7 linked regions of the Homo sapiens genome follow. The protein of the gene in region 1 purifies or fractionates together with the protein of each later gene. This does not show direct contact. Each region holds a gene or a part of one and is shown on either strand. Other genes may lie near its edges.

Evidence for each region.
Region 2: the proteins of INSYN1 (region 1) and BEND3 purify together in Homo sapiens (affinity purification with mass spectrometry; one large-scale study listed by BioGRID and IntAct). This does not show direct contact.
Region 3: the proteins of INSYN1 (region 1) and DTNA purify together in Homo sapiens (affinity purification with mass spectrometry; one large-scale study listed by BioGRID and IntAct). This does not show direct contact.
Region 4: the proteins of INSYN1 (region 1) and IFT81 purify together in Homo sapiens (affinity purification with mass spectrometry; one large-scale study listed by BioGRID and IntAct). This does not show direct contact.
Region 5: the proteins of INSYN1 (region 1) and RMDN3 purify together in Homo sapiens (affinity purification with mass spectrometry; one large-scale study listed by BioGRID and IntAct). This does not show direct contact.
Region 6: the proteins of INSYN1 (region 1) and CEP135 purify together in Homo sapiens (affinity purification with mass spectrometry; one large-scale study listed by BioGRID and IntAct). This does not show direct contact.
Region 7: the proteins of INSYN1 (region 1) and MINK1 purify together in Homo sapiens (affinity purification with mass spectrometry; one large-scale study listed by BioGRID and IntAct). This does not show direct contact.

What each region holds. Positions count from the first base shown.
Region 1 is NC_000015.10:73,736,352-73,739,851, forward strand, and holds part of INSYN1 (inhibitory synaptic factor 1), read right to left. Parts: 3' UTR 1-3,500. UniProt on the Homo sapiens protein: Component of the protein machinery at the inhibitory synapses, probably acting as a scaffold. Inhibitory synapses dampen neuronal activity through postsynaptic hyperpolarization.
Region 2 is NC_000006.12:107,105,516-107,109,015, forward strand, and holds part of BEND3 (BEN domain-containing protein 3), read right to left. Parts: intron 648-3,500; exon of another isoform or gene 562-647; intron 1-561. UniProt on the Homo sapiens protein: Transcriptional repressor which associates with the NoRC (nucleolar remodeling complex) complex and plays a key role in repressing rDNA transcription.
Region 3 is NC_000018.10:34,874,298-34,877,797, reverse strand, and holds part of DTNA (dystrobrevin alpha), read right to left. Parts: intron 2,560-3,500; coding exon 2,400-2,559; intron 80-2,399; coding exon 1-79. UniProt on the Homo sapiens protein: May be involved in the formation and stability of synapses as well as being involved in the clustering of nicotinic acetylcholine receptors.
Region 4 is NC_000012.12:110,127,357-110,130,856, reverse strand, and holds part of IFT81 (intraflagellar transport protein 81 homolog), read right to left. Parts: intron 3,498-3,500; 5' UTR 3,477-3,497; coding exon 3,333-3,476; intron 2,812-3,332; coding exon 2,708-2,811; intron 1,908-2,707; coding exon 1,727-1,907; intron 1-1,726. UniProt on the Homo sapiens protein: Component of the intraflagellar transport (IFT) complex B: together with IFT74, forms a tubulin-binding module that specifically mediates transport of tubulin within the cilium. Binds tubulin via its CH (calponin-homology)-like region.
Region 5 is NC_000015.10:40,748,755-40,752,254, forward strand, and holds part of RMDN3 (regulator of microtubule dynamics protein 3), read right to left. Parts: intron 3,425-3,500; coding exon 3,232-3,424; intron 2,917-3,231; exon of another isoform or gene 2,816-2,916; coding exon 2,672-2,815; intron 1-2,671.
Region 6 is NC_000004.12:56,031,403-56,033,861, reverse strand, and holds the end of CEP135 (centrosomal protein of 135 kDa), read right to left. Parts: 3' UTR 501-2,459; downstream 1-500. UniProt on the Homo sapiens protein: Centrosomal microtubule-binding protein involved in centriole biogenesis. Acts as a scaffolding protein during early centriole biogenesis.
Region 7 is NC_000017.11:4,892,340-4,895,450, forward strand, and holds part of MINK1 (misshapen-like kinase 1), read left to right. Parts: intron 1-62; coding exon 63-173; intron 174-316; coding exon 317-429; intron 430-639; coding exon 640-728; intron 729-946; coding exon of another isoform or gene 947-970; intron 971-1,094; coding exon 1,095-1,258; intron 1,259-1,648; coding exon 1,649-1,754; intron 1,755-1,834; coding exon 1,835-1,972; intron 1,973-2,185; coding exon 2,186-2,294; intron 2,295-2,735; coding exon 2,736-2,903; intron 2,904-2,996; coding exon of another isoform or gene 2,997-3,010; coding exon 3,011-3,111. UniProt on the Homo sapiens protein: Serine/threonine kinase which acts as a negative regulator of Ras-related Rap2-mediated signal transduction to control neuronal structure and AMPA receptor trafficking.

The sequences.
Region 1 (3,500 bases):
GGCCAAGGCAGGTGGATCATCGGAGGTCAGGAGTTCAAAGATGAGGCTGGCCAACATAGTGAAACTCCATCTCTAAGAAAATACAAAAATTAACCCGGGCATGATGGTGGGTGCCTGTAATCCCAGCTACTTGGGAGGCTGAGGCAGGAGAATCGCTTGAACCCAGGAGGCAGAGGTTGCAGTGAGCTGAGATCACGCCATTGCTCTCCAGCCTGGGAGATGGAGCAAGACTCCATCTCAAAAAAACAAAACAAAAAAAAATTGGCCAGGCGTAGTGGCCCACGCCTGTAATCCCAGTGCTTTGCGAGGCCAAGGTGGGCAGATCACAAAGTCAAGAGATCAAGACCATCCTGGCCATGTGGTGAAACCCCATCTCTACTAAAAATACAAAACTTAGTAGCTGGGGTGGTGGCGGGTGCCTGTAGTCCAAGCTACTCAGGTGGCTGAGACAGGAGAATTGTTTGAACCTGGGAGGTGGAAGTTGCAGTGAGCTGAAATCGCACCATTGCACTCCAGCCTGGATGATAGAGGGAGACTCCATCTAAAAAAAAACAAAACAAAACAAAAACAAGAAAAAGGAAGCCACAGGGATCCCACTCCACTGTCAGGAGGTCCAGACTGGGTGTAGCAAAATTGTGAAGTCAGCCAAGTACTACCTATATCCCACTTCCCCCTCCTCCAGGATATACTCCCACCACTGCCCTATTTGGGGGCAAATGGCCAGGCAGGGGAGCAGGGGGCGACTGATGGACATTAGCCACTACTACAGAGTCACATAGAGCCAGTGTGGGGTGCAGGATCCCATGGCTGTGTCAGAGACCCCTAGCTCTGGCCCTCAGTTTCTTCCTCTGTGAAATGCGAACTATTCCATAGGTTTCTTTTCCCTGACTGTTGAAAAGATGAGAAACTGTGAGCCTGAAAGTGCTCTTGCCATGACAGATGAAATGCAAGCCTCAGAGGGAGAACTGTTATGTCCATTCTTAGCACCAGGTAGGCCCATTCCTGGTCGGGGACTGCCCCCTTCTCACTCTCAGGGTGGGGCGGAATGCAGCTGGCCCCTCTCCCCAGAGGAGCCCCTGGCACTCATCCTGTGAACCAGAGCCCTATCGCTGATCAGCACCAAATGGCTGAGGATTTCCTGGGGCTGATAGAGGGGCTCAGACCCTTGGTTCTCAGACGTGAGCTGGGAAGAGCTGGCCATGGCCTGCGCCATCCCTGGATTTCCACACTGGTGGCTGCACCCTGGCTAACTCTTTAGGGCTCCAATCTCACCATGAGCTTGAGGAATAAGCTCTACATTGCAGAGCCTCCTAGGTCTGCTCAGTCTTATCCAGATCATATCCCCTGCAGCTGCTCCAGACCGGCCTGTACAATCTCACTGTATGTCCACAGCCGGGGCTGGATAGCACCTCTTCAGGCAGGAGCAGTGGGTGCTGCCAGGCCTGCTGCTCAGGCCCCCTCCGGACAGACGCTGGGGGGCTGTAAACCTGCCTTAATTGAAATATGCAACAGGGAGGCCCCCAAGGAGCGATGTCTTTGCTGTGCTGCCAGTCCCACCTCCCTGCTCTGAGCGAGGGGCTGTGAATCAAGCTGCAGTCAACTTCTGACCTCGAGCTACTGCGAGGGACCAAGCAATGGAGTGTTTGTGACCCAGGGGTGGCTCCCAGTTGGATGGAGGTGTCTTCTTTGGCCATCCCACTCAAAGCCCCTGTGCCCTGGAAATCACTGGACATCTGGGTTGAGGCCACACTGACCACAAGGCATGTCCAGTGCCTTCAGTTTGTCAAGTGCTTTCACAGTCACCATCTCGTCGGAGCTCCACAGCAGCTGGTGAGGTAGGTGAAGACTACCAGACCCATTATACAGAGGAGGTAGATAGGCTCAGAGAGGCAAACGGACTTGCCAAGGTCACACAGCTGCTAGCTAGCAGAGCCAGGCACAGCCTGGAAATCACTAATTCTTGGGGGCAGAGTAGCACAGGCTTTGTGGCTTTGGGGCAGGTACTGAACTACTTTGAACCTCAGTCATCTCATTTGAAAAATGGGGATAGGTGGGGGCACAGTGGCTCACGCCTGTAATCCCGGGACTTTGGGAGGCTGAGGCTGACGAATCACTTGAGGTCAGGAGTTCAGACCAGCCTGCCCAACATGGTGAAACCCCGTCTCTACTAAAAATACAAAAATTAGCTAGGCGTGGTGACGCATGCCTGTAGTCCCAGTTGCTCTGGAGGCTGAAGTGGGAGAATTGCTTGAACCTGGCAGGTGGAGGTTGCAGTGAGCCAAGATCGCCCCACTGCACTCCAGCCTGGGTGACAGAGCGAGACTCCATCTCAAAAATAAAAAAAATAAAAATAAAAAAAGAAAGAAAGAAAAAGAAAAATGGGGTAATAATACTTCCTGTCTCATCAGGTTATTGTGGTGATTAAATGAGATGCTGCTATAAAAAGTATTCGGCATAGAAGTAGCATAGAGACCTGCTCAATAAATGTGAGCAATATAATTGTCATTATTATCCCAAGGATATTCAGCTGCTGTCCCTGTGCTGGCCATGCCCCAGATGAAGCCCTGGTACCTCTAGGCTGTAACCTCATCTTTGTTCAGGACCTGCTGAGATGGGCTCAGGGGCTGGGTGTGGAGACATCGGGACGGAGTGGGGACCACTGGGCTCCTTTCCAAGGCTGCCCACCTGGTGAAGGTGGCCAGGAGCCTGTCTACGGCCCTAATTTTTAGCCCCATGGAAGTGGCTGCCTACTTCCTCGCACAGATCTCAGGTCTGCTTAGGGCCACGCCAGGACTGGCTGAGGCTTTGCCCTGAGGTTTTGGTCTTGGTCTCAGAATCAGGCTGAGAATGGGAGCTGAAAGGATTGGGGGTGGTCCAGACCCTCCAATCAAACCCCTGCCCAGCCCAGGCGATCCTTCAGGCTCTGTGGATGCCCAGCATCCCAGCACGGAGGCCTGCGCCATGGGAGCAGCTTGCCATTCCCCTATGTCCCAGGCAACCCTAAGATGGAAGGGGGTGAGGCAGGACTGTGTATAGCCGAGTAAGTCTGCCTTGGAGTAGAAGGATGGTGGGTGCAAGTGACGCAGGGCCTGGCCAGACTGATGCCACCCCCAGGCCCTGAGTCCTGCAGTCTCCAGACCACCCCGACTGTGAACCCTGGCCTAAAGGGACACCACTCCCTTTAGAGCCCGCCTCCTGCAGGGGAGTCCCCTCTAGGACATGGCCCTGGCCATCAGCCAGACTCCACCACAGAGTTCAGGGGCTAGCAAAAGGAGGATCAGACCTCCCATCAGTTTTACATACTTTCAGATACCCCCTTCAGGAGCCCCGCAATGAGAACGGAGGAAGGGCAGTCCTGCCCACACCTCCTGGGACCTAGGAGGCCAATGGGCATCTTCATGTCTAAGAGGAGCTCTGTGAAAGCTTTGGGGCCTGTGGGGCCAGATCCTTAGCATTTTTAAATTTTATTATGACTTCATTTGTTTAAATATATATATATA
Region 2 (3,500 bases), on another chromosome or scaffold:
CTGGGAGTGGCCCGGGGTACCTTTCTATCAAGTTCTTTGAATAGTCAGTTGCTGTGGAGAGAGCAGACAGACCAGGTCTTTTGGGACAGCAGCGTGAGCCTAATCAGAGCTGCCAGAGGCCTGTGGGCCGGGGAGTCACACAGGACAAGCGGCAGGCCCAGAAATGGGAAGTACTTGGGCTTCCTGCAACCTGGAGGTTCAAATTCCAGCCAGCTGACTCCGGATTTTACCCTGCTAGATCAGAGATGTCCTCGCCACTGTGCTGAGGTGCCAGTCCAGGAAGACCTGGCCCCAGCAGCCCTGACCTCATGCCACTCAGGGGCAAATCCCCCTTACCCCTAAGAGCTGTTTCCAGATGCAAACTGAAGCAAACTCTCACTACCAGAAGATTCCCTTGAGAATGTGGGCCCCAGAACAGGAATGTGATTGGAACCTGAAACAATAGGGATGGTGGCTGTGTGGCCCCTGCCACACACAAAAGGTAAAGTGGAGAGAATATGCTCAGTCATTAACAAAACAAACTCAAGGATTTTAAAAATTTAACCAAGACCTAAACCTTACTTCAATCTTTTCACAATTGCCATATGTCTGATTTGATTTCAAGGAACTTCTCTGCTACAGGTGACATTGACTTCTAAAAATTAAACCTAGAAGAGGGGGACAGTAGTTAGTATTCATGTGGCACAGGCTTCATGTTCTAAGTGTTACATATGTCAACCCACACAGTCCCCACCAGCACTGCTTCTTGTGCAGATAGGGAACGGGGCGGGGGTGGGGTGATTTGTGCTGCCCAAGGGATGCAGCTGAGACCAGGGAGTAGGAAGGACTTCAGGAGACTCCCGGCATGAGAGCTTCATTCCAGCCTTCCAAGGAAGCTGGGACTGAGGAATGGGCCATGACCTCCCAGCTTTCTTTCCCTCTTCCTGCTAAGCTGTGAGCTGGGTGCAGGTGCATGAGCAAGTCAACAAGCCAGATGGGCCAGTCTGTGACCAAGGCAGGAATTAGTGCAGGTGACCCTCCAAAAAATGGAATTCTTTACTAAACTTTGGAGTCAGATGGAACTGCATGAAACCCTGGCTTTTAATCCAGTTTTTTCATTTTTTTTTTCCCCAGAGATGGGGGTCTTGCTCTGTTACCCAGGCAGAGTGCAGCAGTATGATCAGAGCTCACTGTAGCCTTGAACTCCTGGGCTCAGATGATTCTCCCATCTCAGCCTGTGAGTAGCTAGGACTATAGGTGCACGCCACCACACCCAGCTAATTTTTTATTTTTTGTAGAGACAGGGTCTCCAGGTGTTGCCCAAAATGGTCTCAAACTCCGGGCTTCCAGCAACCCTCCGGCCTCAGCCTCCCAAAGTGCTGGGATTTCAGATGCAAGCCACCACACCTGACCCTTAACCCAGCCCAGTTTTCAAAGAGGGCTTTTTTTTTTTTTTTTTTGAGACGGAGTCTCGCTCTGTCGCCCAGACTGGAGTGCAGTGGCACAATTTCGGCTCACTGCAACCTCTGCCTCCCGGGTTCAAGTGATACTCCTGCCCCAGCCTCCCAAGTATCTGGGATTACAGGCATGCACCACCACATCCGGCTAATTTTTGTATTTTTAGTAGAGACAGAGTTTCACCATGTTGGCCCAGCTGGTCTGGAACTCCTGACCTCAGCTGATCCACCCGCCTCGGCCTCCCAAAGTGCTGAGATTACAGGTATGAGCCACTGCACCCAGCCCAAAAAGGTTTTTAACCGAGTTAAAATATTTAGCATCTAACACCAGGCCAGCTGTTTACCTACCCATCCAAGCTGTATTCTGTAATAGGAGCTGGACACATCTACCTCACCTCAAAAAGTTTTTGTGAAAACTACAAAGGAGAAAGTGTCTGACACATAGCACTCAAAGTTACCTATTATAAAGCTTCTTTTTTTTTTTTTAAGGAAAAGATGTTTAAAGTGCATTTTATTTTTTTATTTTTTTGAGACAAAGTCTCATTCTGTCGCCCAGGCTGGAGTGCAGTGGCACAATCTTGGCTCACTGCAACCTTTGCCTCCTGGGTTCAAGCGATTCTCCTGCCTCAGCCTCCCAAGCAGCTGGGATTACAGGTGGGCACCACCATGCCTGATTAATTTCTGTATTTTCAGTAGAGACGGGGTTTTACCATGTTGGCCAGGATGGCCTTGAACTCCTGGCTTCAAAGTTCCACCTGCCTTGGCCTCCCAAAGTTCTGGGATTACAGGTGTGAGCCATCCCGCCCAGCCTAAAGTACATTTTAATAGTGAATTTTTAAGAACTGCAAATTAAATAAAATGGCTTAAAAGATTAAAAAGGTTTAGTAACTTTTCTTTCCAATGAAACATAGAAACTGGAGGGAGGGGGATGAAACCAAATAAAATGCTCTCCCTGAGGACAGGAGGAATGTTCCCATGCCATCCACTCTGGTGCCGCGGGTCTCTGGGTTCACAGGACCGGCTGGGAGCCTCAAGGGTCTCAGGACCCAGCCCCCTTGGCAGTGGCATCCTGCCCAAGGGACTTGCAGGACATGTTCGCAATTTGTTTTTATTTTTAGGCACATCTGCAAATGCAGTTTGAAAAATACCAGTCCTCACAAAACCAGGGCAATTTTCCCCAGAGTTTTTCTAAAGCTGTAATTGTAGCTGCCTTCCTTATTCAGTCAGAGCACAACCTCATCTTCCGCATGCAGCCAAGCACAGCCGCACAACCCTGCCCGCGCGCCTGTGATTTGGCGTCTTAATCTTTGGTCACTTGCGTCTTCTGAGTCTTGAGTAAATGTGCCATCTTCCTCAGCTAAGAAGTTCCACTTACGTTCTCCCCAACCTCGTGGAGGGCTACCTCCTCACATGGCTCACAGGAGACTCTGCGTATTAACCTTGGCATGCAGAAGCTGAGGCTCAAGGTGGAAGGAGGGACCGCACATTCCAGCATCCAGCCATGTGACTGACTGCACAACGGTGACTAATTTTCCTAGGAGGTATAAGCTGAGTTTCCGCTGCACTTCCCATTTTATCAAGTGTTTTATTTTGTGACCACACAAGCTGATTAGGGTTCGGGGCAGTTGGGTGTATACTGCACCCCCAATCCTAAGCAAGCCTCAGTCCTTCGCTCTGCTAGCTCCATGCTCAAACCAAAACAGCCCCTGACATACAAGAAAAGGCCAGTAAATGACTTATTCAATTGAGCAATCAATGCCCTGATACTGATGCAACTGTGTTTCACTAGTCAGAAATAACTGAAAATCAGACAAGAGGAGAGGTGGCCACAGGTAGAAAAAAAATTAAGAGGGTTGATTGATTGATTGATTTGAGATGGAGTCTCGCTCTGTTGCCCAGGATGGAGTGCAGTGGTGCGACCTCGGCTCTCTGCAACTCTGCATCCCGCGTTCAAGCAATTCTCCTGTCTCAGCCTCCCGAGTAGCTGGGACAACAGTCATGTGCCACCACACCTGGCTAATTTTTGTATTTTTCACTAGAGATGGGGTTTGGCCATGTTGGCCA
Region 3 (3,500 bases), on another chromosome or scaffold:
TCTTTCACAAGAGAGGACATAGTGTTAGTGATGGAATCTGCAGCCACTAGCAAGTCATTCCTTAAGTTTCTTCTTGAACCTTCAGGGAAGAAGAAATAATTTAAAAAACCAAAGCTTCCTTCTATCCTAAATTTTTATGTTGTTTATTTATCCTTCCCATTAATAACCTAAAGCAAGAAAACTTCTAAGACTTCTCCTTTTCAGAAGTGCTTTAGTTCATTTCCTGAAACAAGAACAACAACAACAACAAAACACTGCTTAGGGCAGTGGGTCCTGCAGTAAGAAGACATGGCTAATGATGGAGTTTCATATATTATTTGTCCATATGGGGACAATTTTGAAGGTGAAAGAGAGCAGTATGAATAAGGCTGGCTGACCTGGCAAAACTGGGATGGTTCCAGGTAAACCAGTGCGTGTGGTCACCCTTCTTAAGAATAATCCACACAGATGAAAAATCAGGTTTTCCAGGAGAGCTGCGCCTTCCTAGCTGCTATTATTTTTCTTGCCCTTACCTGGTGGCTGAGCCCTTTAGATTCTGGTCTCTACTAGGACATGCGCTGTCTCCTATCAGGGCTCTTGGAGCTCTTCCTGCCAGTGTAAGTACCACTTGGGAATGGGAAACCCACATGCACTGAATGCCCCCAGAGCGTGAGAAAGGGGTGAGGATTCTTGTTTCTTCTGCCAAGACATGGGCAGATGCATGTCTGGTACTATAAATTGGAACTTAGACTATGTTTCTTTATGGCAGAGAAAGATTATTATTTTGTTTCAGGCACACTAAGGGTTAATGGAATTTCATTCCGTCATTTTTCAGAAAGTAATACTAACTAAATAAAATAATAAATGTTTAAATTAAAAAAATCAGAGTAGTTAAGTAAAAACATTAATTATAATGGAAATCACAAATTGATTTAAAATATAGTACATTTCTTTAAAATATGATTAAGAGAAGGGATATTTTCTTTCTAAAAATTAAAAGTTATTTTGTGAATTACATTTTTAAAAACTCTTGAGTTATATTCAGTGCCTAGAAGAAAAAGTTCTAATATAGATCCTTCCTTTTCCCTCAGAGTAGAGAGTTCATCATTCTCTCTCATTGAAGTGTGTTAAGATTTTATCACCCCTCTACATGGACGAGAGTACCTTTTTCCTCGCACTTTTGCTATCCCTGGATATTATGATGTTTCAAAACATTTTTTTAATCTTCTAGGCAAAAAGTGATACTTATTAAAATTTATATTTCTGTAATTAGAGGTTGAACATCTTTTCATATATTTATTGGCAATTTCTCTTTGTTCTTCTGTCTATTCGTATATTTCACCTGTTTTTGTTTTGGTGGTGTCTATTCTTTCTGATCTCTACATGATTTTTGTATAACTGAAATTATGAAACTTGATTGACACATATACTGGAAATGGTTTCCTCAAGACTGTTTTCTGTCTTTTAACTTTGTTTATGATCTCTTTTGCCTTAAAACCCATATTCAAACATGTCTCTCTTTTCCTTAGATCTCTATGTGAAGACTTCGAAGAATGTTAATGATATATTGCTAATTTAAAGAAAATGCAAATTGCAGACCCCAAAATGCAATGCATGATCCTATTTGTGTGAAAAAAAGAGTATGTGTCTATAATCACATCCTTAAACATATCTATTTACACAAAAGCAAAACTTTGGGAAGGATCAAACTGTTAATAGTGGTTACTTCTGGGAATGAAAGCTGCCGGTGAAGGTCTACAGAATGATTTTTTTATTATTATTCTCTATAAATTTAAAAAGTGATAGTAAGAAGAGGTTTTAAAAAGTGTTAAAAATATTTCTAAATTAATAAAGTTACTCTCCCTGTCATGGGAAAGTGCTGGCTGGCATCCCCATCCCTCTTTGTACTCCTCTAACTGCAGAGGCTTAACCCTGTAGCCCTGCCTTACAGAGGCAATGATTCAACTCTTCGGGGCATCAGAACAGGGAATCTGTCAAATGACTAAATGTCCTTCTTGGTTACCTCATTGCTAAAGAGCTGTGATTACTTATCTCAGTCTTGACTTTAATATAAAGAAAAGACAATATGAGATAAGAAAATCTCTAAGAATTAAAAAAAATAGATTACATTTATGAAGTTTTCTGGGGGTATTGGTGAAAAGATTTCCTGTCTTTTGATGAACAAAGACTTACTAAAAAATAAGGCAGGGCAACAAAAGCCAAAGGAAGGTAAAATCGTGAAGTGAGAACAAATTGGTGTAGGGAGTTCCCAAAATGGCTGGCAGGCCAGGCTCTGACACCAGCCATGAAAGACCCTACAATAGTCACATGTGGTTCTGACAACTCTTGACCACTCAATAGACCTTGGTGACCTATTTGCCACATAAAAGCAGACCACAACAAAAAATAAAGCCACTTACTTTGTGCAAATGCCTCTTGTACATCTCCCCCTACTCCTGTGAGGGAGTCCTGCGGCGTGTGCGTCGGGGTGGAGCAGGCTGACGCTGACCGGATGGGCATGGGAATTGGCCTGCTGATGGTGTGGCTGGGGGAGGAGCGGGGAGAGCCTGCCCCCTGAGTCTGGAGAGACAATGCAGGTCATTAATTTGCTTTCCCAAGAAAATGTCATATGTCATCCCCAATGCCTCAGTTGATTGTTGAAAACAGTGACAATGAAATTTCAAAGCAGGAGGAAATCCTAGGTAATTGTGTTGGTAATCCTAAAGCTAATTTGCAGGTGCAGATAATTTAGGACCTTATTGTATGTAATCTGAAGTTTGGGTTAAATATTGAAAGCTAAAACTATTAGTACAGCATTGCTCTACAGTATATGGGACATGTGCCCATAAAATGAAGGTACTGTTAAATGCAGATAATTACAAGGTGTGGATACTTTCTCCTTGAAGGAAGGTCTCCGAGGACTAAGAAGACATTAAGGAGAAAGTTTAAAATACAAACTAGAAGACTATTTGCAATGGATGCTTTCTGAATTTTCAACCTGACTGTACTAGCATTATCTTTAGAGGATAAGAGTTTAAATCATGTCATACAATATTGTGCATATTAAGTCTCAAATTAAGAATCAAATGAAGTGTAAATTGTTTTATCCCTATTTTATAGTAAAAGCTGATTTTGTCAAATTAGTAACTCAGGGATTCCAATGGGGAAGAAGAAGAAGAAGAAACCTTGTTTTCTAATTTTTTGGTATTATTTCCTGCAGGAAATGTCCTTCTCTTCTCCTATGAAAAAGCAGTATTCTAGCAGGACAATAAGAATAGTAGGATTTAAAGACAAGTAAAGAAAAAAGTAGAAAACAACTGAAGGAACTTATCTTTGCACTACAGTTTTTGGCATGAAACTATTCTGAGACTGTCACACTTTGAATCTTAAGGATTTGTCTCTAAATGAGGTGCCTTGGAAATATTCTCCCTGTTTTAATAATTAGTTGACAAAAGAAGTCAGCCACATGCGTAAGAAAATGCAAGGAGACCCTTGAGTGCATACACAACAGATTAGGTGTT
Region 4 (3,500 bases), on another chromosome or scaffold:
GTGTAAATCATTATATATTGTAAATCATTGTGTGTGTGTATATCTCTTTCTCATTTTATATATATATGTATATGTATATACATATATATAGAGAGAGATACCTGTCAGATATGCTTCAAGAACAAGTATGTCTTTATTACCATTAATTCTTTCATCAACTAGCTGAGCATATTTAGCAAAGACTTAATCAGGTCGTGCACCGTGGCTCACGCCTGTAATCCCAGCACTTTGGAACCCGAGGTGGGCAGATCATGAGGTCAGGGGTTCGAGACCAGCCTGGCCAACATCATGAAACCCCATCTCTGCTAAAAATACAAAAATTAGCTGGGTGTGGTGGTGGGCACCTGTAATCCCAGCTACTAAGGAGGCTGAGGCAGGAGAATCACTTGAACCCAGGAGGCGGAGGTTGCAGTGAGCCGAGATTGCACCACTGCACTCCATCCAGCCTGGGCAACAGAGCAAGACTCTGTCTCGGAAAAAAAAAAAAAAAAGACTTAATCAACTTCCTCTAGATAAATTAATTTTTATCAGATTTATCGATGGTGGGAGCCTAGGAAGGAGAAAGTACACATTTACACTTCTCTATTTCCCACATTGTGTAAAATATTCAAAGGTAAGGACAGGTGGTCTCATTCTGCTGTGCTTCTCCCATGGCATCTACTGTGACATCTGACATAATTATTTGCATAAATACTGTCTTAAGAGATCAATATTGACTCTATTTTGAGTTACTGCCATGTCTACCCCAAATAGCAAAATATATGGATAAAAATAAAAATATTCAGTTGGTTACTGCGATTCAATCCAAATATTGAGCTAACATTAGAAGTGACTATACAAAATCTGGAAGAAAATAAAGATGGATAAGACATGGCACCTGTCTCTATGGGCCTCAGAATTTATTGGGAAAGACAGATTGACAAACTATTCACAACAATTTGGCACAAATCAGTCTATGTAAGTGCTATGGAATAAAAGTGTGAAACACTAAACAGAAGCACTTTTTAAAAAAAAAAAAAAATCAAAGTCCTTTTAAATCTGAGTCTAGTTTCTTTCTCTCCACAGTCTTTGACCAGCAATGTGCTTAGGGATCTCAGGATCAGAAGCCAGACCAGCCAGAATCCTCAGTACTCAAGAGCTTTAAGACCTTATGCCAGAGCCCAATGTTACTCCAAAACCTTGGCAAGAAAGGTGCACTGAGATTTCAAACTCCGGAATCTATCTCTACCCTTTGTCTGATTGGGAAGTGCTTTGAGACTGCAAGCCTAGGTTCTTTGCCTGCTTCTTTCCAGGACCTCACATGTCCCAATTTGCCTGGGATAGTGTCAATTTAAACCATTTGTCTTGGTGTTTAAATGTTATGATAGTCTGTTTCTCTCAAATTTGGATAAAAAACTATGTAGTCACCTTACTGATGAACAAAGTGCTGTGCAGACTTAACCCAGGATTCTATTTACCCACAATTGCTAAGTAATAAATTATTCTAAAATCTTAGTATCAGGTTTTTTTTTTTTCTATTCACATACTCCTATCACTAAAACAGTATTTGTGTGCAAAAGCCATTATCTTGAGATGTGGCCATAGTTGAACATTAGCTGATACAGTTTTATCTTCTTGTGCCACTTGGAACTACAAAGACAGCAAATAAAAAAAGAGTAACATGTATTTGAATATATACACCTTGAAATCCATTACAGTTTCAATGTACCATTTATGTATTGTTTACCTGTTTATTGGTGTCAGCCACAGTTTCATCCTGAAGAAACTCACTTGGTACCTCAAGTTTTATTAAAAAACGAGCTAAATATGCTCTTTTCTTCAGTTCATTAGTCCTCTGAAGAAGCCAGTGGAGCACTGGGTAAATTACAGGTTTACTTCCAATCACCAAACCCTGACGAAAAGTACTCCTAAGAGAGAAACACACATACACAAACACACACGCACTTAACGGTAAACTTTGAAGAGAGACAGCATTTTCTCAAAATCTGATTTACAATGTCCAAATTGCTTTCTGTAACTTTTTAAAAAAGATAAACCCAAGGAATCTTTTTTTTTTTTTTTTTTTTTTTTGAGACAGGGTCTCACTTTATTGCCCAGGCTTGAGCACAACGCAGCTCACCAAAGCCTTAACCTCCTGGCTCAGGTGAACCTCCCACCTTAGCCTCCCAAGTAGCTGGGACTAGAGGCACCAACCACCATGCCCAGCTGATTTTTTGTTGTTGTATTTTTTGTAGAGGCAGCGTTTCGCCATGTTGCCCTGGCTGGTCTCAAACTCCTGAGCTCAAGTGATCCTCTCACCTTGGCATCTCAAAGTGCTAGGATTACAGGTGTGAGCTACCATGCCTGGCCCCAAGGCTATTCTAAAGTCAGTCTGTACATTAGTTAGAAAATTAGAAAAATTTGGCCCTCAATATATCATTGGCATATCCAAGGAAGTTGTGTTTAAGCTGTTTTTATCTAGGATGGCAGATAAAGGATAAAATGGTATAGTGGATTTACCAGACAGTTTGATTAAGGCAAAGAACTGACCCTCTTAAGACTTCTGAGTTTGTTTATAGAAGGTTTAAGATTATTTTGAAACTCAGTGATGTTCTCAGGCCATCAAATGAGGGAAACCAGGTATTACCTACAAAGATTGATTGCAGTATATGAAGGTTTGGATATTAAAGCATAATTTTAAAAACTCAATACGTGATCAGATTCTTACATATCTGTGGCATTTCCTGAAGGTTTGTACTTAAGAATACCAAGAAGGCTCAACATTCGTTTGGCTGTCTGCTCTGGCATCTCCTCTCTGATATCCACAAGTTGCTAACAAAGAAATTGAAAAAAACATGTTATTGTTGTATATGTAACAAAGGACAATATTTAAACTCACTGACAAAATTGTTCTGCTAGAGCTTAACAGCACAATGGTCTCTTCATAAAACAGATTAAGGATGGAGGCCCCCAGATTCCAAGTGAGGGTACACCCAAGTCAGATCAAGATTCACATTAAGAATGTTAAGCTTCAAAAAAAGTATCCAGTGGAATGGACCAGTGTATGAGAGACATGAACTAACTTGCAATACAATAAAACCTTTTGTAAAAGAATTTTCATTCCCTAACCAAACCTATTTATGTCTGGAAGTGGATAAATAATTTTGAAATAAGGTACCAATAGATAATTTATTTTTGAGCTAGCAGAGAAATGTTATGCATTATTTACTATTACTTTACAGACATGGAAAATAAAGCTCAGAGAGGTTAAATAATGTGCCCAAGACTCACAGCTATTTAGAGGGAGAAATTGGCTTTCTGCTACCCATCAAAAAGAAAGAGAAAACTCTTACCTTTGGGTCAATCTCAGCCAGAACATCACTGAGAACTTGTAATAGTTGCATTGGCTCCAAGGAATCAAACGTGATTAAATTATAGTTCTTCCTAAAGGGCTCCTTATTGAGACTGTCCATAATGAATTTAATTTGATCACTCATAATTAGGTCTTATAATTTTAACTA
Region 5 (3,500 bases), about 33 Mb from region 1:
ACGCCCAGCTAATTTTTCTATTTTTAGTAGAGACAGGGTTTCACCATGTTGGCCGGGCTGGTCTCGAACTCCTGACCTCAAGTGATCTGCCCACCTCAGCCTCCCAAAGTGCTGGGATTATAGGCATGAGCCTCCACACCCCAGCCTCAGTAATTTTTTTTTTTTTTGAGACAGAGTACTGCTCTATCACCGAGGCTGGAGTGCAGTGGTGCCATCTTGGCACACTACAGCCTCCACCTCCTGGGTTCAAGTGATTCTTCTGCCTCCGCCTCCTAGGTAGCTGGGATTACCGGTGCCTGCCAACATGCCTGGCTAATTTTTGTATTTTTAGTAGAGACGAGGTTTCACCATGTTGGCCATCTGGTCTTGAACTCCTGATCTCAGGTGATCTACCTGCCTTGGCCTCCCAACGTGCTGGGATTACAGGCCTGAGCCACCGCGCCTGGCCTAGTACAACTTCTTTAAATCATCACAAAGAGGACCAGGTGCGGTGGTTCATACCTGTAATCTCAGCACTTGGAGGCTGATGTGGGAGAACTGCTTGAGGCCAAGAGTTCAAGAACAGGCTGGGCAACACAGTGAGACCCCATCTGTACAAAAAAAATAAATAGAATTGGCTGGGCATGGTGGCACATGCCTGTAGTCCCAGCTATTCAGAAGGCTGAGGCAGGAGCACCACTTGAGCCCAAGAGGTTGAGGCTGCTGTGCTGTGATGGCACCATGGAACTCCAGCCTGGGCAACAGAGTGAGACCCTGTCTCAAAACAAAACAAAACAAAAACAAAAACAGTTGTGAAGGGCCTCAAGCTTTCTTTGATTTTGGGCAGAGCTGTGACCTCTCCTTCTGTTCAACCTCCTTACAGAGTTCAAACATCAATTCCCCACCCAAGTGGCCTGCTTCCTTGGGTTGCAGAGATGTTCTTTACATCTCAGTGCCCACTATCAACTACTTCCTCGGTCTCTCTCTTCAATTCAGATGTATCAAATATTAATTTCATTTTTGCCCCCTCTTTAACACAACTTCTGGAAGCATCTCTTGGCCCAGAGCCATTTAGGTAAATTGAATAGAAAAGGGCCACCTCTGTTTGCCCTTGAGAATGCAGATAACAGGGATCTGACAACCCAGGCAACAGCAGTCCCCCATGGAAGAGCAGAGAGCTCTTCACCACCACTCCACAGGTTTCTGGAGACCCCGGAGCACTCATCAAATCCAGCGTTGGTGATAATGACATTTCAGTCAACCACGGACTGCGCATATCAGTGGGTGCATACGATTATAATGGAGCTGAAAAATTCCTATCACCTAGTATTTACATTGTATTTTATTTTTCTGAGGCAGGGTCTCACTCTGTCACCCAGGCTGGAGTGCAGTGGCACAATTATGGCTCACTGCATCCTCAAACTCCCGGCCTCCCAAGTAGCTGGGACTACCGACCCATGCCACCATGCCCAGCTCGTTTTTTTTTTTTTTTTTTTTTTTCTTTGAGATGGAGTCTCACTCTGTCTCACAGGCTGGAGTGCAGTGGCGCAATCTCGGCTCACTGAAACCTCTGCCTCCTGGGTTCCAGCAATTCTCCTGCCTCAGCCTCCCGATTAGCTGGGATTACAGGCATGCACCACCACACCTGGCTAATTTTTGTATTTTTAGTAGAGACAGGGTTTCGACATGTTGGCCAGACTGGTCTCAAACTCCTGAACTCAGGTGATCCGCCCACCTTGGCCTCCCCCAGGTAGTTATTTTATGTAGAGACGTGGTCTTGCTGCCTTGTCCAGGATGGTCTCAAGCTCCTGAACTCAAGCAATCCTCCTGTCTCGGCCTCCCAAAGTGCTGGGATTACCCATGAGCCACCACCACACCTGGACTGATTTTAACTTCTAGTTTCCATGTACCTGCTTATAGCTAATTCCTCTGATCCAGCATAAAACTTGGCTGTTCTCTACACCAGTCTTTCCCTTAAGAAGAATAAAGGCTGGACAAGGAGAAATCGGCCTCTAGGCCTCACACAGGCTACCTGAATAACTGGAGCTAGCAGCAGATAAGGTCAGATGGGTCAGATGCTGCTACTGACATCACACTCTATCCTTGGGACCAGAGTTTCAAAGTGGTGCTAGTGGTTTAAACTCAAAACACCCTTAGCATGACCAGACTTGGAGGAGGCTGTCCACCAGACTCCTGCCAGCTGCCCCGCCTCACAGAAAGGCCTATCGTCAGCCCTCCTGGGCCACTGAGAACTCAGGACATCCACCTCCCACCTGTAAAAATGCAAAGGATCACAGGCAAGGCTCCCCTGTGGGAAGAGGGTGACTCCCAGGGAGGAGCATGCTTCGTGCTTAGACATCTCCGTATACCAGCTCAGCCACCCAAGGAAAGGAACAAAGTCAAACAATGCTTATCAAGTCCTTGTGATAACACAGAAAAATGCCCAAATAATATATCATAACTATGTAATAAACTAAGATAACAGATGCAAGCAATAACTGCTATTAACATCTACATTTGTCTGAATGACATAAATTGGATGGGTTTTTTGTTTCAACTCTTCTGTATTTATTATACTCTTACCTGTTCCAAAAATCATTTGCAGCAGCTTGGTTTGAATTTTCCATTGATAATACTTTTACAAAACACAACCTGGCTGTAGCCATAACTGCCTCCAAGAGAGACAACTCACCCCCCTTCACTCTCAGCATCTGTGAACGTGGCTCCCGAGGAGGCCGTGAAGTAGACAGAGCTGGAGCCAGTGGAGTCACTCCTCTCCCGGACAAACGGAAACCTTCGCCGCCGAGCCACTCTCTGGTTCTCTTCCATGTGGCATCTGGAAAGCAGGCCCCATCCCGAAGGGTACCATTAGGTCCCATCCAGCTTGTCTTTCTGCTCACCATGGGGTGCCTCTTACTACTGCTCCTCATTAAAGGGCTAAAAGCAGAGAAAATCCTAAGTCTCTAACCCTCAGGAGGGCAAGCAGGGCAGCTTCCTGGGCCCAGCCCGCACAGACAGACTAGGTTAGGCAAACAGAGCGCTTCAGCTGCTACAACAGATCAACCATGAGAGTCCAGAAGCAGCAAGGAGCATGTGCAAGGCGAGGTACCAAATGTACAGCTTCAACCCAGATTAGGCTAGAAGCTATAGAACTGGTTTATTCTTTAGAGACAGACAGCGAAGGCCAGAACACACCCCAGCTGAAAAGCTGCAGGGGAGGGATAAAGCAGGAGAAGAAGCCGCATTACTCACCGGACCTCCCCAACAATCTCCCCCGCAAGCCCTCGCAGGCTGCTTCTCAGCTCCTCCACCTCCCGCCGCAGCGCCACAAGGCTGGTCAGCACAAAGTCCAGGCGGTCCAGCACCTTCTCCTGTCCTTCCCGTGGAAGGCTGGGCAGCACTGAGGCATCTCCAGCCCCACCTGGGACAGCCCGCAGGAGCATCACTGAAGGGGGAAACGAATGGGAGCCAGTGACACACAGGAATATGGTGGGGAAGAGATCTCACACCCAGAATTCAAG
Region 6 (2,459 bases), on another chromosome or scaffold:
CTCCAGATAACTACAATGTGCAGGTATAGTCAATAACCATTGGCCCAAGAAGATACTGATATAAAAAGGCTGATAATAGAACTAATGGTAGAAAGATAGTAAGCCACTTGCTAAAGTCTTCTAAGAATTAGGGAGAGAAGTATGAGATCACTTGTATGATGAATTACAATAAGGTACGGCAACAGGTGTCATAGTCTAATGGGAGTCAATGTGCTCAACAAAGAGCATTTGCAAGTGAGAAGAGCGTATATTCATACGCACACACGTTTAACCATTTTGTGGACAGATAACAAAAATAAACTTTGGCTTCATTTCTTATTATTTTGAACTAAATGGAAATAAAAGTCAGTTAAGAAAGGTGCCTGGCACCTATGTTCAGGGATTTGTCCATATCCCACCATGATAAAGTTTGATTTGAATAAACTTTACTTAATTTTAGAATTAAGAGTATCCCTAATATAAAATTATAAAAACCTTATTTGTAAGAAAGAGAAAATAAATAGGCTAGAAAGTTTATTGGCAAATCTAGGTCAAGCTCCATAATTTAAAATTATTTAAAACAAAATCAAAAACATCTATAAAAGGTCAGAACATTCAGTATTTTAAGATAAAATTTTTTCAAAACAATATCATGGTTATGAAAACAACATTTGGCAGGCTATACATTTTTAAATTATAGAAAACATTAAAAATAAAATATCTAACAAAATATGTCTTGCTGTTGCTTTTGGGGAAAAGGTGGAGACAAATATTTTTTATTTTATTTACATATATTTATTAAAAGATTTCCATATGGTATTGCAAACAGTCCCATGTCTCTTGTATTTTGCTATAATATATGAATTCACACAAAGGAGATGGGATACATAAAATTACAAAGGTGGTAGAAAAGCAAACCAGCCCACATCCTAATACACACTAAAAAGGGCATAATTCAGATATATAAGCCATATTAGTTTTAGAAAAAGAGCACTGCCCACCCCCAGGTATACACACACACACACACACACACACTTCACTTTATTAAACCACAAGAGGAAACAAAATATATCATAAGTAACTGATCATTCACTTTCCTATGTTAGTTTTTATGTTTTTCAATCATAATGAAATATATTAAGAACAGATTTTCTTCACGATTGATTTTTGTATCTGATATTCTTTTTTGTACTTCTGTTGTTTCATTAACATAGGTATACACCCAAATTCTTTAAAATTACAACTTTGAAAATTAATTGTAAAAAGCTGTTTTCCATGTATATTACACAGTTCGGCGTTAAAAATGGCATTTTGGGGAACTGGTAAATTATAACACACAGGCTTAGAAGAAAAAGAGTGGTATCACTGAATGTATATTGGAATTTAACAAAACGTTTTACTGTATTTACCCCATATATTTTTCTTTTTTTTTTTTTCTGAGACAGAGTGTTACTCTGTCACCCAGGCTGGAGTGCAATGGCATGATCTTGGCTCACCGCAGCCTCCACCTCCCGGGTTCAAGCAATTCTCCTGCCTCAGCCTCCCAAGTGGCTGGGATTACAGGTGCCCGCCACCAAGCCCAGATAATTTTTGTATTTTTAGTAGAGATGGGGTTTCACCACATTGCTCAGGCTGGTCTCAAACTCCTGACCTTAGGAAATCCACTCGCCTCGGCCTCCCAAAGTGCTGGGATTACAGGCGTGAGCCACTGCACCCGGCCTACCCCATATACTTTTATACTTTGAAACCTTAGATTAATACACCGAGGAATTTTATTTCCTAGAAAAATGTCCCAAATTTCTGTTCTATTGTTTTATACAAAACTCTGCATATAGCTTTTAGTTTGCTTTTGAATTTGTGTTACATAGAGTCCATATGATGATAGTTAACATTTTACATAATATATAAATGTATCTTTCTCATCATAGTTCTTCTAGATGGCAATAACACGTTATATATGGTAGTTATTTTACCAAGACCTCTGCTATTATAAGAAGACTAGACCTGAATATATTCCCCTTGACAACAGACAGTAGATCTATGAATAATTTTAAGAAGAAAAAGTTAAGCATGACAGCATAGCATCAAAGTTGATAATTCTTTGTGAATACATTAAGATATGGTCTAAACATAGGCATGACAACTAAAAACAAGTACTGTAAGAATATTTACATACACATATCATGGCTTATTAATAAACAGATTATTAAAGAATAATGTGAATACATTATATTAATTCACAGTATAAACATACTTTTAGTAATTTAATTCATGAATAATAAAAATATAGATACATTAGGCACTATTAATACATATTCTTGTTCTGTCATATATATGAAAATATACATATAGATATAGTTCTTTTAAACCAAACTTTTTAACATATTCACTGATTTAAATAAAAGTTGACAGAGGTAGAATTTGTGTCCATGTTCATGATTTTCAGCAACAAGTACTTCAAATATTTCATTACTGTTCTG
Region 7 (3,111 bases), on another chromosome or scaffold:
CCAGCCCCATCACCTCAGCGCCCCCCCGCCGCCCCCTCGGCACCCCTGTGCTCCCTTCACAGACCTCGCAGCAACTCCGCCTGGCAAATCTATCTGCAAAGGCGGGCAGAGCGGGGCACCCCAAAGCCTCCAGGGCCCCCTGCTCAGCCCCCTGGCCCGCCCAACGCCTCTAGGTAATAGAGTTGTCCCCCAACTCACTCTCACCTCTCACTTCTGCCACCCGCTTCCCTGGTGATGGCTCCCTCTGCAGTGCAGCTCAGCACCCCAGAGAAGGGAGCACCGTGCCTCCCTGACCCTGACTCTGCCCCCCCAACAGTAACCCCGACCTCAGGAGGAGCGACCCTGGCTGGGAACGCTCGGACAGCGTCCTTCCAGCCTCTCACGGGCACCTCCCCCAGGCTGGCTCACTGGAGCGGAACCGCGTGGGAGGTATGTGAGCCAGGGCTGGGCAGCCTGCTCTGGGCCTGGGGGCTTATCACCATGGACCCTGCCTTTGGTGGCTTTGGACTGGGGCACCCACACGGACAGGGAGGACCTGTGTGGGTATGGAACTTGGGGCTGAGTTCTGGGGCTCAGGGTGTGGGCTTGAGGCCATCCCTTGTTCAGGCATCAGTGACCTTCTTCCACCCTGCCGTCCAGTCTCCTCCAAACCGGACAGCTCCCCTGTGCTCTCCCCTGGGAATAAAGCCAAGCCCGACGACCACCGCTCACGGCCAGGCCGGCCCGCAGTGAGTCACCTGGTGGCAGGCATGGCCTGCCTCATCCTGGTTTGGGGCTTAGCCTCAGGGTGCTGGGTGTCAGGGGTGGGGTCTCCGCTGATCTACCGAGAAGGGCTGTGGGGATGGAGGGACTGGTGCTTCTCATGGTGCTAACCTTTCCTAACCTCTCTCCTAACCTCTCTCCTAACCTCTCTTCTGGCTCTTTCTTCCCCTGCGGCCCCTCCCAGAGCTATAAGCGAGCAATTGGTGAGGTTAGTGAGATGGGCCTGCTTGTGGGAGCCCCTCCTGTCGCCCTGCTGGGGTGTCCCGGCACCCTTTGTCTACCTCCACCCAGGCCCAGCTTCTCCCTGCCCCTCACGTGGCTCCTCCCTGCAGGACTTTGTGTTGCTGAAAGAGCGGACTCTGGACGAGGCCCCTCGGCCTCCCAAGAAGGCCATGGACTACTCGTCGTCCAGCGAGGAGGTGGAAAGCAGTGAGGACGACGAGGAGGAAGGCGAAGGCGGGCCAGCAGAGGGGAGCAGAGATACCCCTGGGGGCCGGTACGGCATCGGGAGTGGGGCCCTCCCACTCCAAGGCACAGGGAGGGAGGGGAAGTGGCAGTGGGGAAGAGGTGGGGCTTTGGGGCAAGTCTGAGGGAGAGCGGCTCCCTTCTCTAGAGAGTGGGGTGAGGGTGCAGGTTCCTGTCTCTCTCCCGCTGCCCTGTGTGTTGTGGGGTGGCCTCTTCAAGTGCCTGTCTGCCCCTGTGCCAGCCTGCCCTGTGTGCCATGCAGGGAAGCACCTCACGGTGGAGCAGGGGCTACACCGTGAGGGTGGAGCAGGTTGTGTTTTGAATAGAGACAAAAGCCTGGGCTCTGGCTGCCATCTGCTGCCTTTGGCACTTCTGTGGCCACGGGCAGGACCTGGAGGGGCCCCACCTTCCTCTCTCACAGCAGCGATGGGGATACAGACAGCGTCAGCACCATGGTGGTCCACGACGTCGAGGAGATCACCGGGACCCAGCCCCCATACGGGGGCGGCACCATGGTGGTCCAGCGCGTGAGTGAGCCTCTGCTCCCTCCCCTGTACCTGTGTGTGCCCTCCTCAGCCCCACGCCAACCCTGCCCTCTGTCCTGTAGACCCCTGAAGAGGAGCGGAACCTGCTGCATGCTGACAGCAATGGGTACACAAACCTGCCTGACGTGGTCCAGCCCAGCCACTCACCCACCGAGAACAGCAAAGGCCAAAGCCCACCCTCGAAGGATGGGAGTGGTGACGTAAGTGGGCCGGAGGCAGGTCCGCCGGGAGAGAAGAGCCCTGGCGATGGGCAGGAGGTCCCGGTGCTGGGTAACGGCAGAGGATGGGGCGGAGCGCTGGGAGCTGGACAGCGGGGGTGCCAGTTGGGGAGCTGGAGCCTGGGGAACAGCAGCAGGGGCAGGGCCGCAGCTGGACTTGCACTTGTTTGCCTGACTGCTGTCCCCCTACCACAGTACCAGTCTCGTGGGCTGGTAAAGGCCCCTGGCAAGAGCTCGTTCACGATGTTTGTGGATCTAGGGATCTACCAGCCTGGAGGCAGTGGGGACAGCATCCCCATCACAGGTGAGGACAGGAGGACAGACCTGCTGTGAGGCCAGGGTCCAGGGGCAGCCTGGAGGGGAGCACAGTGGTCTTGAGACGCAGCCTCACAAAGCATAGCCACAGGACCTCTCCCTTGGGCCCTAGCACCTGCCTGGGCACAGAGGCAAGGAAGAGCCTCTGAGACCCCTCCTTCCTGTCCCACAGGACAGGAAATGCTCAGAGTTGCCAGGGGACCTGGGCAAAGACTCAAAGCTAACAAGTGACAGAAATGGGACTTGAGCCAGACCTTTTGACTCCAAGTCCAGCACTCTATCCCCCTCTCCCATGCACCTCCTCTCCTCCTGTCTTTCTCCTCCTTTCTGCGTATTATGAGGTGCCAAGACCTGATATAGGGGATGGAGGTAAAAAGAGATGGGGTGAGAAGCTGCAGCCCCTCCTCCCACCTCCTCCTCCTTCTGGCAGCCCTAGTGGGTGGAGAGGGCACTCGGCTCGACCAGCTGCAGTACGACGTGAGGAAGGGTTCTGTGGTCAACGTGAATCCCACCAACACCCGGGCCCACAGTGAGACCCCTGAGATCCGGAAGTACAAGAAGCGATTCAACTCCGAGATCCTCTGTGCAGCCCTTTGGGGTAAGCCAGGGCAGGGACAGCTGAGGAGGCTCTGGCGTGGCTCTTGTGCTCCTGGTTAGGTGAGGGCCTGGCTGAGCCTCTGACCTGCCCAAGGGCTCCTGTTGCAGGGGTCAACCTGCTGGTGGGCACGGAGAACGGGCTGATGTTGCTGGACCGAAGTGGGCAGGGCAAGGTGTATGGACTCATTGGGCGGCGACGCTTCCAGCAG